2 linked regions of the Homo sapiens genome follow. The protein of the gene in region 1 interacts with the protein of each later gene in a biochemical or structural test. Each region holds a gene or a part of one and is shown in the gene's direction. Other genes may lie near its edges.

Region 1 (7,459 bases):
TCCCAGCTATTTGGGAGGCTGAGGCAGGAAAATGGCGTGAACCTCGGAGGCAGAGCTTGCAGTAAGCCGAGATCGCGCCACTGCACTCCAGCCTAGGTGACAAAGTGAGACTCCATCTCAAAAAATAAATAAATAAATAAATAAATAAATAAGCAAGGGAAATATGGTGTCTTTACCCAAATTTTACAAAGTAACAGTCATTTTACAAAACCGGTAGAAAAACAATTACACCTTGACCGTAAAGGCAGAAGTCATGTAACGTCCATCTCTGCACGCCAGACCCTTCCTCCCCTCCCAGCTCCCACACCCAACACAGCAAGACCCTGCCTACTCCTCCAGCCTCCTCTCCAAATTCTAACACTTTCTGCCTCACATATGGGCCCTGCCTGCTGGTGATGTTCTGTTTCTTGATTTGGGTGCTGGTTACATGGGAGCATTTGCTTTGTGAAAATTCATTGAGCTGTAAACTTGTGGTTTATGAACTTTTCTATATGAATATTATATCTCCAGAAAAAGGGTTGTTTTTTTTTTTCTTATTAGCCTTGCTTGTCCAGACATCCATGCCACTGCAAATCCTCACCCTTCTCCCTTTTCAACTTTCCCTGGCAGTCTTATACTCAACCTCCGAATCTGCTCAAATGCCACCTAGCTGACCTCCTCCAGCCCTCCAACCTAAGGCCAAATCCAGTGCCACCTTTTCTGAGCTAATTTGTCTCTGTTCTTCACCACAAAGTATAGTTGTTTGCAGAAGATCATGCCTTATTTATCTTCATATCCCAAGTTTTAGCACGATGCCTAACCTTCAAGAAACACTCAAGAATTGAGTTAAATATTTCTTATGCTTCTCAAGCTCCTATTCTACCACCTTACTACAGGTGACATGGGCCCCAGTCTCACTCCAGAATTAAAGAATGTTATAAAATACGAATTCCTCAGCTTCCCATCCCCACCTGGCCTCTAACCTAATCTGGGGACTCCAAGAATGAAATGCCTTCCCCTTCTCCTCTCATCCAAACCTAATCCCTCCGCCTGTGCTCTGGACCATTCCTCATACAACTCCCCTGAGTCCTTTTAGCTGTCCCCTTCTCTCTTCCAGCTTCAACTTTCCCCCTTCAGCATTCAAAATAAATCAAGTCACTCCCATTTTTGAGAACATTTTTTCAATCCACACATCTCTTCTTCTAGGCTTTCTAGTTCCGTTCATAAGGAAACATTATTGGGGTATTTACGCTTTTTTGTGTTATGAACCACTGTGGTAGCCCAGTGATGCCTATAGACCCCTTCACAGAGTGTTTTTAAATGCACAGAACCACAAAGAAATAACTGAAAAATGTGTATCAAATGTTCTAAAAAATGTGATATATACACTTCTTTACTAGTGTATTAAAAAAATATAATTAGGCCGCGCACAGTGGCTCACACCTGTAATCCCAACACTTTAGGAGGCTGAGACAGGCGGATCATATGAGGCCAGGAGTTCAAGACCAGCCTGGCCAACAAGGCAAAACCCGATCTCCATTGAAAATACAAAAAACCTAGCTGGGCATGGAAACATACACCTGTAATCCCAACTACTCGGGAGGCTGAGGCACAAGAATCCTTTGAACCTTGAAGGTGGAGGTTGCAGTGAGCCAAGATTGCACTACTGCACTCCAGCCTGGGTGACAGAATGAGACTCTATCTCAAAAAGCCAACAAACAAAAAAGCCCATAATCAAGCCAAAGACCCAATAATTAACAAAATTTTGAAGTAAGGATGAGCACGATGAAATCCTGAGATGCCTGTGATCACTGTATTGTGATAAGGAAATACCAATGATTTCCACAGATGACAAAGTCACAGGTATTGCTGATGCTACTAGTTGCTGCGTATGTTCATAATTGAAGAAATGCTAAATTTCAGTTGAAAGTTAGTGAAAATAAAGGTATAATATTTTTTCCATCCAGCTTCATGAAACCCCTGATTTCTATTAAAGGGTCCCTAGGTTAAGAGCCTCTACATTTTAGAGTTACCCCTACTCTCAATGCTGGGAAACCTTCCTTTCTCTCAGTATGTTCTCCCTGGTTCCTTGGCTTTAAATATGACCTATATGCTGATGACGAGCAAATGTATATATGCCTGCCCAGTCTTTCTTCTGAACACCAGGCTCACTTTTTTTTTTTTTTTTTTTGAGACAGAGTCTCGCTCTGTTGCCCAGGCTGGAGTGCAATGGCGAAATCTAGGCTCACTGCAACCTCTGCGTCCCGGGTTCAAGCGATTCTCCTGCCTCCTGACTAGCTGGGATTACAGGCACAAGCCACCACGCCCGGCTAATTTTTGTATTTTTAATAGAGACGGGGTTTCACCAAGTTGGTCAGGCTGGTCTCAAACTCCTGACCTCGTGATCCACCCGCCTTGGCCTCCCAAAGTGCTGGGATTACAGGCGTGAGCCGCCACGTCCGGCCCTGAACGCCAGACTCTTACAGCGAATTGCCTACTTTCTATCTCCACCTGCATGTCACTGCTAACAAAATATGTATAAAATGCAGCTCCTGGTGTAGGCCCTCTCCCTAGTACTCCTCCAAACCTGGTCCTGTCTGTCTTAATCTCAATAAAAGGTACCATCATCACCCAACTGCTCAAGCTAAAAGTACGAATCAGCCTTGATTCCTCCGTTCCATCACTCAATCCATCGGCAAATCCTGTCAGTCCCTTTCTAAATCACCCTCTTCTATTTCTAGTACCACCACACTAGTCTAAGCCACCTATCTTGCAGCCCTGCCTAACCGGCATCGAAAGAAAGATACCGGCCTTGGGTAAACCTCGACACTAGAGTCACACTACCATATCCAACAACAATGGCCAATCTAACCCCAGAATTCCACAGAGGTCATATTTCAACCCAGCAAAAGATGAAATATTCTAAAATAAAGGACTATAGGCTTTCACCAAATGGCTCTGTAGAACAGACAAGGAAACGTGGGTCAGAAAGCTGTGACTGTGCCTAATCCTAGAACAGTGAAGACGACCCAGACTGCATTCTCAACTGCACATGTGAGAAAACCCAGCACATGTCTCCAATGCCAGCTGAAGCCATTCCAACACAGACGACTTTCCAGGCAGTAATTCCTATTTCCAGCTGCCTGTTGGAGATTTCTACCTAAGAGTCCCACACACTTCAAATTCATATACCAGCCTGAACTCTCCATCCTTCCTCCCGTATTCCTTCTCCCAAAGCAATGAATCCACACCACCCACCATCAGCCAAGTAGGAAAGTCATCCTTCCCGCATCATAAATCCAATCAGCTACATTCTGTCTCCTAAACACCCTTGGACCGTGTCCTCTCCTCTTTACTGGCACTGCCTCTGACGTGAGCCAGCCCTGACCAACTGACAAATTATCTGTCCCCAGGTCCTCAGAAATGGCTCTTCCCCTGGCAGGCACCCCCACTGCCTGGGCTGAGAACCTTCGGGCTTCTCCCTCCTGGCTTGCACCTCGCAAATCGGCTAGAGAGGGCCTAGTCCTCGGGCTACCCGACCCATACCTTGGCTGGATTAGTCAACACCTCCTTCATGTACTCGGCCACAGTGATGGGACCAGTAGACTTTATTTTGTACATAAGATGCCGCAGCATCGGCGTCACCGGGTTTTCTGCAGGCTCATTCCCGGAGCTGAAGTATTTCCCTCTCCAAATAAAAGGAATGGCTGCGAAAAACACAAATTAAACAGACCCCATGATAAATCTGACCATTCACGAGCGCAAGCCGCCTGAGCGTTTTCAAAACAGCTTCGTGAACCCTTAACCTCGCCCCACCGCAGACCGCGGGCTACTGTGCTTAGCACGCCCACGGGGCGCAGAGACAGCACCCACTTGCCCACGACTACGCAGCCCTATTGCGTTTGTACCGGACCCGTTTCCAGCCCAGGGTACCTTCAAGGTGGAAGTGAGCCCCCGAGCCCTTGATCCCCCGGTACCCTCAACTGAAGAGCTGAGGAAGGCGCCCCACGCGGCTTCCACGGCAACCGGGCTTCGAGGGGACTGACGCTTACCTGCGCGCGCCACGGCACACAACGGCCCCAAACCTGACCTCAGCAGTACACTCATGCTGAAATTCGCAGGCTAGCTCGCTCCGCCAGGAGCTGGGGCTTAGACCATTTCCGGGAGAAGACACGCCCCGACAGGAATTACGCCACTGGCAGAGCGGAAATAGGCTGAGTTTCACGCGCGTATGCTTTGCCCGCCATGGCCGCAGTCAAGGAGCCTTTGGAGTTCCATGCCAAGCGGCCTTGGCGCCCCGAGGAGGCAGTAGAAGATCCGGACGAGGAGGATGAGGATAATACTAGTGAAGCCGAGAATGGGTTCTCCCTGGAGGAAGTGTTACGGCTCGGAGGCACCAAGGTAACGGCCGCGGGCTCCGGGGAACGGGATCAGGCGTGGAGAGTTCCGAAGGTGGCTAGGCTGACTGCCCCGCCGCTTCCGCGCTGCGTAGAGCGCGGGCGTCCAGGACCGAGATCCCAGCCTCTGAAGCATGTGTTCGGTGCGCTTCCCACGCCGGTTTCCACTGCTGTTTACAAAAGAAAAGTTTCGAATTGAACGTTGTATTCTCTGGCTATTCTTAGGATGTAGGCGATCTTCTGATTTTATTGACGTGGTATAACCATCACACCATCAGGTCGGAGAGTGGCTTTTCTTGGTCCTGACCTTGTGGTATGAGTGTTTTGAACACCAGTGGTATTGGAATTTTCATTTCTGTTCTCATAGAGTACATGCACGTGTCACTGTATGCCCCAGAAGCCCTCTTTTTTGGAGCATCCTAATTAAGGGAGAGAAACAGTAAACAAACTTTTAAACACATAGTACAGCAGACGCGGGGTAGTGCTATAAAAGAAAATAAAACAAGGAAGGACGATAAGGAGTGGGAGCGCGTTAGTATTAAATGAGATGATCGACAAACACATCACGGAAATGTTTGAGCAGAATCCTAAAGGACAGGAAGGAGTGAGCTGCCATTCCAGTCAGTTGGAACAGCAAATGCAAAGACAGGCAGAAGAGTGCCTAACCTATTCCATGAGCAGCCAAAATGCCAGTGTAGCAGAGGCAGAGTGAGTTAAGGGGAGAATAGTAAGAAAGGAGGGCCGAGGGGTCAGAGGGCAGGCTTTTGCTCTGAGTTTGATGCAAAACCACTGGAAGATTTTAAGCAGATAAGGAACAGAAATTAACTTTGTTTTTAATATTATTTTGTTTGGAGACTGGACTTTCAAGGTGGAGGAGTTAGTTAGAGATAGGCAGATTCACAGTTTGCTCTGTGCTTGTGTATATTTAAGTTTTGAATAGGTAATATATACACATGAAACACGTGGTGCAAACTTTAAAAGATACATAGTGAAGTCAAATTGTTTCCACTTTTATCTCAGCCATAACCATTGCCCTGATAGGAAGCAATTATTTTTACAACTGCATTTTATATCTTTCAGGGATACTATATACCTTTTCAAGCATATACATACTCATTTATGTGTATGAAATACGGGTGTATCTTTTTTACATAAATGGTACCATATATATACACCTATCTCTACATTTTGCTTTCTTTTCTGTCTTAGAAATCCTTCTATATCAGTGCATAACGTTCTGTGTCATTGCTATGGCTGCATAAATCATTTTGTCTGTCTTAATTTATCTAACCAGCCATTTATTGTGAATATTTAAATTATTGCCAGTCTTTCACTATTTTAAATAATACTACAGTTAATAACCTTAATCGTGTTTTTCCCCCACTTTTGTAAGTGTATATGTAGTATAAATTTGTAGAAATGAGCCAGGCACAGTGGCTCACACCCATAATCCCAGCACTTTGGGAGTCAGAGGTGGGAGGATACCTTGAGTCCAGGAGTTTGAGACCAGCCTGGGCAACATAAGGAGACCTCATCTCAAAAAAAAATTTTTTTTTTAAATAGCTGGGCGTGTAGTGCCAGCTACAGGCTGAGGTTGGAGGATCACTTCAGCCTGGGAGGTTGAGGCTGCAGTTCAGCCATGGTCATGCCACTGTACTCAAGCCTGGACAACAGAGCGAGACCATGTCTCAATCAGTTAGTTAATTTTTAGAAATGAAGCTGCTGGGCCAACAGATGTGTGCCTTGTATTAAATAGTTGTGATTGGAGTTGACAAATTGTCCTCCATGGAGGTTGTGTCAGTTTACACTCACATCAACCATGTATGAAAGTGCCGTTTCCGCCACCCCTTCCCCAGCATCACCTGTCATTGTATCTTGCTCATCTTGCAGTGTATCTTTGCTCATCTGATAAATTAAAAGATGGATGTATCATTGTGGTTTTAATGTGGATTTGTCTAAACCTCAGTGAGGTTGAACATCTTTTCATATTCTTAAAGAACCCTTTTTTTCTATGAACTGTTCATGTCCTTTGCACATTTTTCTTTTGGGTTGTCACTTACTGATGTGTAGAAACTTATATTAAGGGATTAAACCCAATTACTTTGATAGGAATTGCTTGTATTTTTTTTCCAGTTTATAATTTATATTTTTTTCCTATATCGAAATAAAAAGTGTGTGTGCGTGTGTGTGTGTGTAAAAGAAAGAGAGAGAAAGAGAAATTTACTTATCCTTTCCTTTGTGGACCCTGAGTTTTATGTCAAATTTGAAAGGATTTTTCCAGTTCCGAAATTATTTTTAAAATTATGTTGTGTTTCCTATTATTTTATGGTTTTATTTTTCACATTTGTAATGTATTTTTAACTTATGTTTTTAATGCAGCAAGATTACCTTATGCTGGCTACTTTGGATGAGAATGAGGAAGTGATAGATGGAGGCAAAAAAGGAGCAATCGATGACCTTCAGCAAGGTGAATTGGAAGCATTTATTCAAAATCTTAATTTGGCGAAGTATACAAAAGCTTCCTTAGTTGAAGAAGATGAACCAGCTGAAAAAGAAAATTCCAGCAAAAAAGAAGTAAAAATACCTAAAATAAATAATAAAAATACAGCAGAAAGTCAAAGGACATCAGTTAATAAGGTGAAAAATAAGAATAGGCCAGAACCACATTCTGATGAGAATGGCAGTACCACACCGAAAGTAAAGAAAGATAAACAGAACATCTTTGAATTTTTTGAGAGACAGACTTTGTTACTTAGGCCTGGAGGCAAATGGTATGATCTGGAGTACAGCAATGAATATTCTTTGAAACCCCAGCCTCAGGATGTTGTATCTAAGTACAAAACCCTTGCTCAGAAGCTGTATCAGCATGAAATCAACTTATTCAAAAGTAAGACGAATAGTCAAAAGGGAGCCTCTTCTACCTGGATGAAGGCAATTGTGTCATCGGGGACACTAGGTGACAGGATGGCAGCCATGATTCTTCTTATTCAGGATGATGCCGTTCACACACTTCAGTTTGTAGAAACTCTTGTGAACCTTGTTAAAAAGAAGGGCAGCAAACAGCAGTGCCTTATGGCCTTGGA
Region 2 (7,223 bases), on another chromosome or scaffold:
GGAAGAAGGATTACTAGAGTGTGGCTGTTGCTGATTGGCTAATTTTCAGAAGCAAGTCACTGATCAGGAGATTGTTATTGATTGATTAAAACAGATTCTGGTTGTTTCTTGTCACTATGACCAAAGAACAATCAGTATCTTTTTGTTGCTCAATTTGGAATGAAGGAACTTGCCACTCTGTCTTACAAGGCCACTGGAAAGTCTTTGTCTTTTACTTTGAGAGAAATGAGGAGTTAATAGGGGATTTTTGAGCAGTGGAGTGACAGGATTTGACTTATATTTTCAGAGGATCTGAAATCTTGGCTGCTGTGTACCAGAGTGGAAGAGGGGAGACAAGTCACTGCAGTCACCCTGATGAGAGATGTATTAGGTTGTTGTTGCATTCCTGTAAAGAAATACCTGAGACTATGTAATTTATACAAAAAGAGGTTTAATTGGCTCACGGTTCTCCAGGCTGTATAGGAACCATAAGGCTGGCATCTGCTTCTGGGGAGGCCTCAGGAAGCTTCCAATCATGGTGGAAGGCAGAATGGGAGCAGGAACTTCACAAGGCAAAATCAGGAGCAAGAGGGAGAGGGGGAGGTGCTACACACTTTTAAACCACCACATCCCAAGAGAACTCACTCAGTATCTCGAGGACAGCATCCAGGGGATGATGCTCAACCATTCATGAGAAAGCTACCCCCATGATCCAATTATCTCCCACCAGGCCACACCTCCAACACCGGGGATTACATTTCAACATGAGATTTGGCTAGAACATCCAAATCCTTTCAGGAGATGTGACTTGAACCATGGTGGTAGTAGTATGGGCAATGAGAAGTGTTTTCTCCCTTTTTTTTTTTTGAGACAGAGTCTTGCTCTGTCACTCAGGCTGGAGTGCAGTGATGCAATCTCAGCTCACTGCAGCGTCCACTTCCCGGGTTCAAGTGATTCTCCCATCTCAGCCTCCTGAGTAGCTGGGACTACCAGCATGCAGCACCATGCCCAGATAATTTTTGTACTTTTTGTAGAGACAGGGTTTCACCATGTTGGCCAGGCGGGTCTCAAACTCCTGAGCTCAAGCAGTCCACCCTCCTCAGCCTCCCAAAATGCTTGGATTACAGGCATAAGCCACTGAGCCTGGCCTGTTTCCATTTTAGATATATGTACTTATAGCCAACAAATAAACAAGATAATCCAGTTAGGCTAAGGGTATTGGAGCAAATATCATATTTACTTTTACATAGAATAATATAGCTGGATGACAGGATAGAGAGTAACTGGGCGGGGCTACTTAAGAAGAAGGGATCAGGGAAGTCCCTCATTGAAGGGGCAAGACCTCAGTGATGAAAAGAAGCCAGTGAGGATCTTAAGGCTGGTGCGTGTGTGAGGAGCAATGCATAGGCCAGTGGGTCTAGAAGGTGGTGAGGTCAGGGTTGAGGAAGAGCCACAAGCCGGGTGGGAGAGGGAAGCTGAAGCCAGATCCTTCTAGGCCTCAGTGCATAGAATGGATTGAGAAGAGTGGAGCAAGAGAAGAATCAGGAAGGTGGAAGTGGAGACAATATTCTACTAGACCCTGTCCTCATGGGAATTTTACGAGACCTCATTGAAGTGATGAAGTAAAAACTGTGAAGTCTTCATGGGGCCAGGGATTCTGTTTCATTGTTTGCTTAATTATGACGCCTAGAGAAATGGCGATATGAACTAACTGGCAGCTGTGGTGTACAGACTCGAAATAAAGACACTCAATTACCTGTCTCTGACTTTGAATGCAAAGACTAGGTTAGCTGCAGTGTTTTTTCCAAGACTAAATTATGATCTTGGCCTTCCTCTTTCACCAAGTCATCAGAAAAGTGGTTAACATTTATTGGGGGCTTCCTGAAATAGATACAGAAGAAACAGAGAACACAGGTTGGTTGTTAAGGCAGGATGACCTAGGATCCAACTGCAGAGGGGATGTGGACCGGGTTCCATTTCTCCTAGAGTTCTGGCTCCTCAGGGTAAGGAGAGTGATTCATTCACCTTTGTAGCCCTTGGGCTCCTAGTACAATGCCTGCAGAATGTAGGAGCTGATATTACCTTTTAGTGGAATTTGAATTAAGCACATAGTTTAGATCCACAGTACTGAAATGATAAACTATTAACTCAGAAAAGTAGTCATCTTCGCATCTTTTGGTTCACCATCCAGAATTGGGAGAAGGATTAGTCATCTTTCTCCCAATTCTTTTTTTTTTTTTTTTTTCCTTTTTTGAGACAGAGTTTCATTCTTGTCGCCCAGGCTGGAGTGCAATGGCGCGATCTCAGCTCACCGCAACCTCCGCCTCCTGGGTTCAAGTGATTCTCCTGTCTCAGCCTCTCGAGTAGCTGGGATTACAGGCATGCGCCACCACGCCCGGCTAATTTTGTATTTTTTAGTACAGACGGGGTTTCTCCATGTTGGTCAGGCTGGTCTCGAATTCCTGACCTCAGGTGATCGGCCTGCCTTGGCTTCCCAAAGTGCTGGGATTACAGGCGTGAGCCACCATGCCCAGCCCCTTCTCCCAATTCTATTACTTTATATTTCCTGCCTTTGAACCTTTGAACACATCATTTCACTCCTTAATCTCCACTTTATGGGTAAGCATAGAGAAAGGGAGAAATTAAACTCAGGCCAATTTTTCCTTTTTTTTTTCTAAGCAAATAACACCTTTTAAATGTTTGATGGAGATTGAAGAAATTCATGCTATATAAAGATCTTAGGATAACTTTTTTTTTTTTTTTTTTTGAGATGGAGTCTTGCTCTGTCGCCTAGGCTGGAGTGCAATGGTGTGATCTCGGCTCACTGCAACCTCTGCCTCCCGGGTTCAAGCGATTCTCCTGCCTCAGCCTCCTGAGTAGTTGGGATTACAGGCGCCCACCACCACGCCCGGCTAATTTTTGTATTTTTAGTAGAGACGGGGTTTCGCCATGTTGGTCAGGCTGGTCTCGAACTCCTGACCTCAGGTGATCGGCCTGCTTCGGCCTCCCAAAGTGCTGGGATAACTTTTTTTTTTTAAAGGGCTTTCTATGTATACATTATCCCAAACAACCCTGAGAAGCAGACATTTGGCCAAGATCACAAGCCTGTAAGAAGGGGAGTTGGAATTCAAGTCAGGTTGTCTGATGACAGTGGCATTGCTACTTACTCCTCTTGTCACAATTTGGGGCTTTCATTTGTCTTTTCTTCCATACTTGCCGCAGAAATGTTTAAATACTCTGAGAAACAGTAGGAACTCTATAAATAAAAGATCTCTGTATTTTTACATAATCAAAGCTGGAGAGTTTAATGTGGTGCAGGCCACTCGGTTAGTGGAAGCAGAGGGCATGCCATCCCCAGCTCCGGTTGCAGTGAGTGGATCCAGTGTTGGATTACCCACCTCTGGGATGGTCACTGCTAAGCGAAGCTGAACTCAGGACTGCAGTTTGAGAAAGACAGCGAAGGAGCTTGGCTGCACAGAGGCAAGAACGGGCCACGGATTCTTGCAGCCAAAATGTCATCTGGTTGGGAAAAGCCGCTTGTCAATCTGCAGCTACTAGAGGGGTGGGGGTGGGTGGAAAATGCAGCATCTTAAGTTCAAGATTCAGGGTGAAGGCTGGCTAGACTTAGCAGGGGTCTGCATCTTTAGATGAAATGTGAAAAACACCCAAGCTCAGGGACCAAATGACAGGGAGCGCTGTGCATGCGGCGACGCTAACAGGGACCCAAGGAAAGAAAACACGAGGCGCTGAAGGCGCTCCAGGAGGCCCCCGCCGTTCAGACCCTCCCGGTGGCTCGGGCGCGTCGTCCTAGGGGGCGGCTTCTGTCCTTGGTTTCCCCTTCTTAAAAATCCAGGCGCAGGCAGGCTGAGCTCAGGCGGCTGAGGCACCTCCACGTGGCGGGGGAAGGGGTGACAAAGAGAGGGACGCCCGAGAGATCCCGCTTCGCACAGGCCCGGGTCAGCACCGGGAAGGAGGCCCGCCTAGACCCGAACGGCGCGCCCGGGCAGGGCCCTGGAAGACCTCGCGCCTAGAGGAGCGGCATCCGGAGCGGCGCGGAGGCCTCACAGGAACGCGGGACTGGGCCGGGGGCGGGGCGGGGCCGGGGGCGGGGCGGGGCGGGGCGGGGCCGCGGCGGGCGGGCGCGCGGGCGGCGCGGAGGGAGGGTGTCGCGCCGAGGGAAGCGGCCCGCGGCGGAGGGAGGGGAGGCCGAGTCCTGGAAGCGGAGCTCCGCGCTGGGACTGGTTCCTTCGCAGCCATTTTCTGTCCAACCAAACAGCCGATTGGAGACGGGAGCCAACCAGGGCTGCATTGGAGGTTTGTGTCTCGCTTCGGCCAATGATCGCTCCTAAACCGACTCCACTTTAGCTCGAATGAAATGTCCGTCTCCTCCCGGCGCCGTCCCCGCCGCCAACGCCGCCGCGGCCGGGGGCACTAGCCTCCCGCCCTCCCGCGCGGGCCGAGGCCGGGCCCCGCGCCTGCGAGGCCGCTCCCGCAGCGGGCCGGGCCGGGGAGCGGGCGCGGGGCCGCGGCGCGGCTCTTTGTGCGCCGGGCTGAGGAGCGGCGGGACGCGGGCCAGGCCACCTCACCCTCGCCGCCGTTGAGCTCCGGGCCCGGGGCCGAGGAGGGGCCGCGGGGCTGCGTCGGGGCCCCGCTCTCGACGGCGTCCCGGGCCGGCTCCATTTTGTGCGGGGAGCCGGCCGAGGGGCGGGAGACGCGGCCCGGGCCCTGGCCCCGTAGCCCCGGCGGCGGCGCGAGTCCCCGGGGGCGCCCTCCTCCCGCCCGCGGGGCTGTGGCGGGGCCCGGCGCTTTGTCTGCCCGCACATCCCGGGGGCCGCGCGGCGGGTGGGAGGCAGGCGTTGGGCGCGGGGCCGGGGCGGCCGGGCGAGTCAGGGGATGCGCTCTGGGGGCGGCCTCCTGGCACTCGCAGGGCTGACAGGTCGCCGGGACCAGGCCGTGGGGCCGGGGCCACCCAGGCACCTGCGTGGGGAGGAAGGCATGGCTTTAGCTTCCCCGCAGCCTGGTTTGCGCGTAAAGAATGCAGCCATCTGGCGGTTTGCGGTCCCTGTACTTGCCCCGAAGGTGGGAAGGAAGCCCTTCGGATTGGACTAAGGTTTTAATCATTAGTGGTGGGAGGCGGGAGGATATGCAGGGCCTTAAAGAACGGTAGTCTTAGAGAACAAAGAATTACAGAGCACCCACAAATCGTAATCTCGCCCAAAGCACTCTAACAGGATAATTTAAACAAGGTTAGGTAGCCTGCGACCTTTAAAAAAATGGCATCCCACTAACCCGCATGGACCCCATAGTTGCGTGGTTCGTGCTACAAATCACTGGGGTGGTTTCATCTCTCTTAGTATGGAAACTAATCAGCAACATAAAGTGATGAAAGCAAACGGATCAATATCAGTGGCACTAATCAGTGGGGGGTTTATTTGTAAAGTATTGAAAGTTTAACCAAAATTCCTTAAAAGGCAAATTATTCCTTCCCTGCATTGCTCTTGTATCTTAATTTAAGGATTACTGTATATTGATGCAAAACTCTGGTTGTTGATGCCAAAGAATGGAGGGTGGAGGAAGGGACTACTGCTTTTCTTGGATACAAATTTGCATTTCTTAAAACATTAAACAGATGTATGCATTCCCTTGAGCTTTTACATATATCAACCTGCCCTTAAGAAAATATACACCATATGAGGTGACAGTGTTTTTCTTTAATGTACTGAGTCTAAATATATACTGAATCAACTATTTGGGTGAGTGAGTGTGGTGTGGTATGACTCCCTGCCCACACCCCCCTCTCCCATTCCAAGCAAAATACATAAATATAGCTCCCATGTTTTAAGTGTTCTGAGGGCTTATTTTTTCAAAGACACTCTTTAAAAAATAACATTTCTCGTTACAAGGAAGGACTTTTCTGAGCAGTTTTGGGGTTAGAGGATACTATTAATATTTGAAAAGAAATTATAAATTACTTTTAATATTATAGCAAACGTCAAGCAGTTTTTGCTACCTGGACCTTTTTAGTGGCATTAAAAACTTTCAATTCAGTGGCTACAATTTTTTCTGCTATTTGCTAGATTTCATGCTTGGATGCGTATCAGTATATCTTCTCCCTTTAAAATTAACACTGAAAGGATGTGTTTTTGTTTTGGCATCCTACCCCTCCCCCATTTAATTGTTTCCTTTGAGAAAGAATGGAGCAAATGAGAAATGAAACTTGTAACACAGCAATTGGTACTAATTTGTTCAGCTATTTATGCCTTACAGTGAGACTGAAGTGCTATTTCGATGCAATTTTAGTCAAAAATGGTGGTGCTTCAAAATTATAAATAAGGGTCTTGATTGTGTTGCTTTTTTGATATCTTCTCAGTGCAGAATGTATCTTCATTACAGTATAATCTGAGATTCTTAATTGAAAAGCATTATATTCTCAGATAATTTTTTCCTCCTCTTGAGCTATAGAATGTCTAAATGTTACTCTGAAACATTTAAGAAAACCATCACCAAAAAATTAAGATGATAAGGGGTGTGTTTGCATCTTGAGTGTTAATGTTTTAAGTAATTTAGATGTATAATTTTTGGTCTCTTGCATATTATATAATTTGGTCCCTTTTTGGTGTATTGTAATGAATGTTTATGATGAATATGGCTAAATTCAGGGTTATGTTGGAAAATCCATTTTCTCCTTTCCCCATGGAATTAACTTGTTTTTAAGTTCTCCAAAATAAATCTTTCAAGTCAACAAACATTTATTGGGTGCCTTTTTATACTATTTTATACCATGTACTCCATTGATTAAGAATAGTAGTCAAAATTATACAAGCCCTCTTTAATTTTATGAGAAAAAAAGCCTATAAGTGATACATTTGATGTATTTTTACTATTGATAGATGTTAGGTCCTAATAGATGTTTATCTTTTAGGTTGAAATCACAAAGATTAGACACCTTTTTAGATAGGTGTTCTTCAGCACCACTGACAACACGGTTCTGACAGTATTTCATGACAGTAAGTATATTTTACCATTTTGGTTGTTAATTAGATTTGAATAGTAATTGGCTGGAAATAAAATTGTAACCAATTTATACTGGAGGTGCCTGGTAGAATGAATGCATTTCAAGTCTAGACAGACAGTACCTCTGCTCATTCCTGTTGCTTCCTTATTTTCAGCTTCTTGCATATATTATTTCCCATGGGTCCCTAAGTGCTGTTGAGGCTACAGGGTAGCCTGTCCCAGCTGTAAAG

The links. Proteins that work in one complex are often made in the same cells at the same time.
Region 2: the proteins of CEBPZ (region 1) and NFYB form a complex in vitro, tested with the Homo sapiens proteins (one study listed by BioGRID).

The regions. Positions count from the first base shown.
Region 1 is NC_000002.12:37,228,333-37,235,791, reverse strand, and holds the start of CEBPZ (CCAAT/enhancer-binding protein zeta), read left to right. Parts: upstream 1-4,195; 5' UTR 4,196-4,224; coding exon 4,225-4,380; intron 4,381-6,755; coding exon 6,756-7,459. Other genes in the region: NDUFAF7 (protein arginine methyltransferase NDUFAF7, mitochondrial), read right to left, coding at 3,526-3,686, 4,032-4,086. UniProt on the Homo sapiens protein: Stimulates transcription from the HSP70 promoter.
Region 2 is NC_000012.12:104,135,211-104,142,433, reverse strand, and holds the start of NFYB (nuclear transcription factor Y subunit beta), read left to right. Parts: upstream 1-4,223; 5' UTR 4,224-4,293; exon of another isoform or gene 4,294-5,225; intron 5,226-6,901; 5' UTR 6,902-6,980; coding exon 6,981-6,986; exon of another isoform or gene 6,987-6,990; intron 6,991-7,223. UniProt on the Homo sapiens protein: Component of the sequence-specific heterotrimeric transcription factor (NF-Y) which specifically recognizes a 5'-CCAAT-3' box motif found in the promoters of its target genes.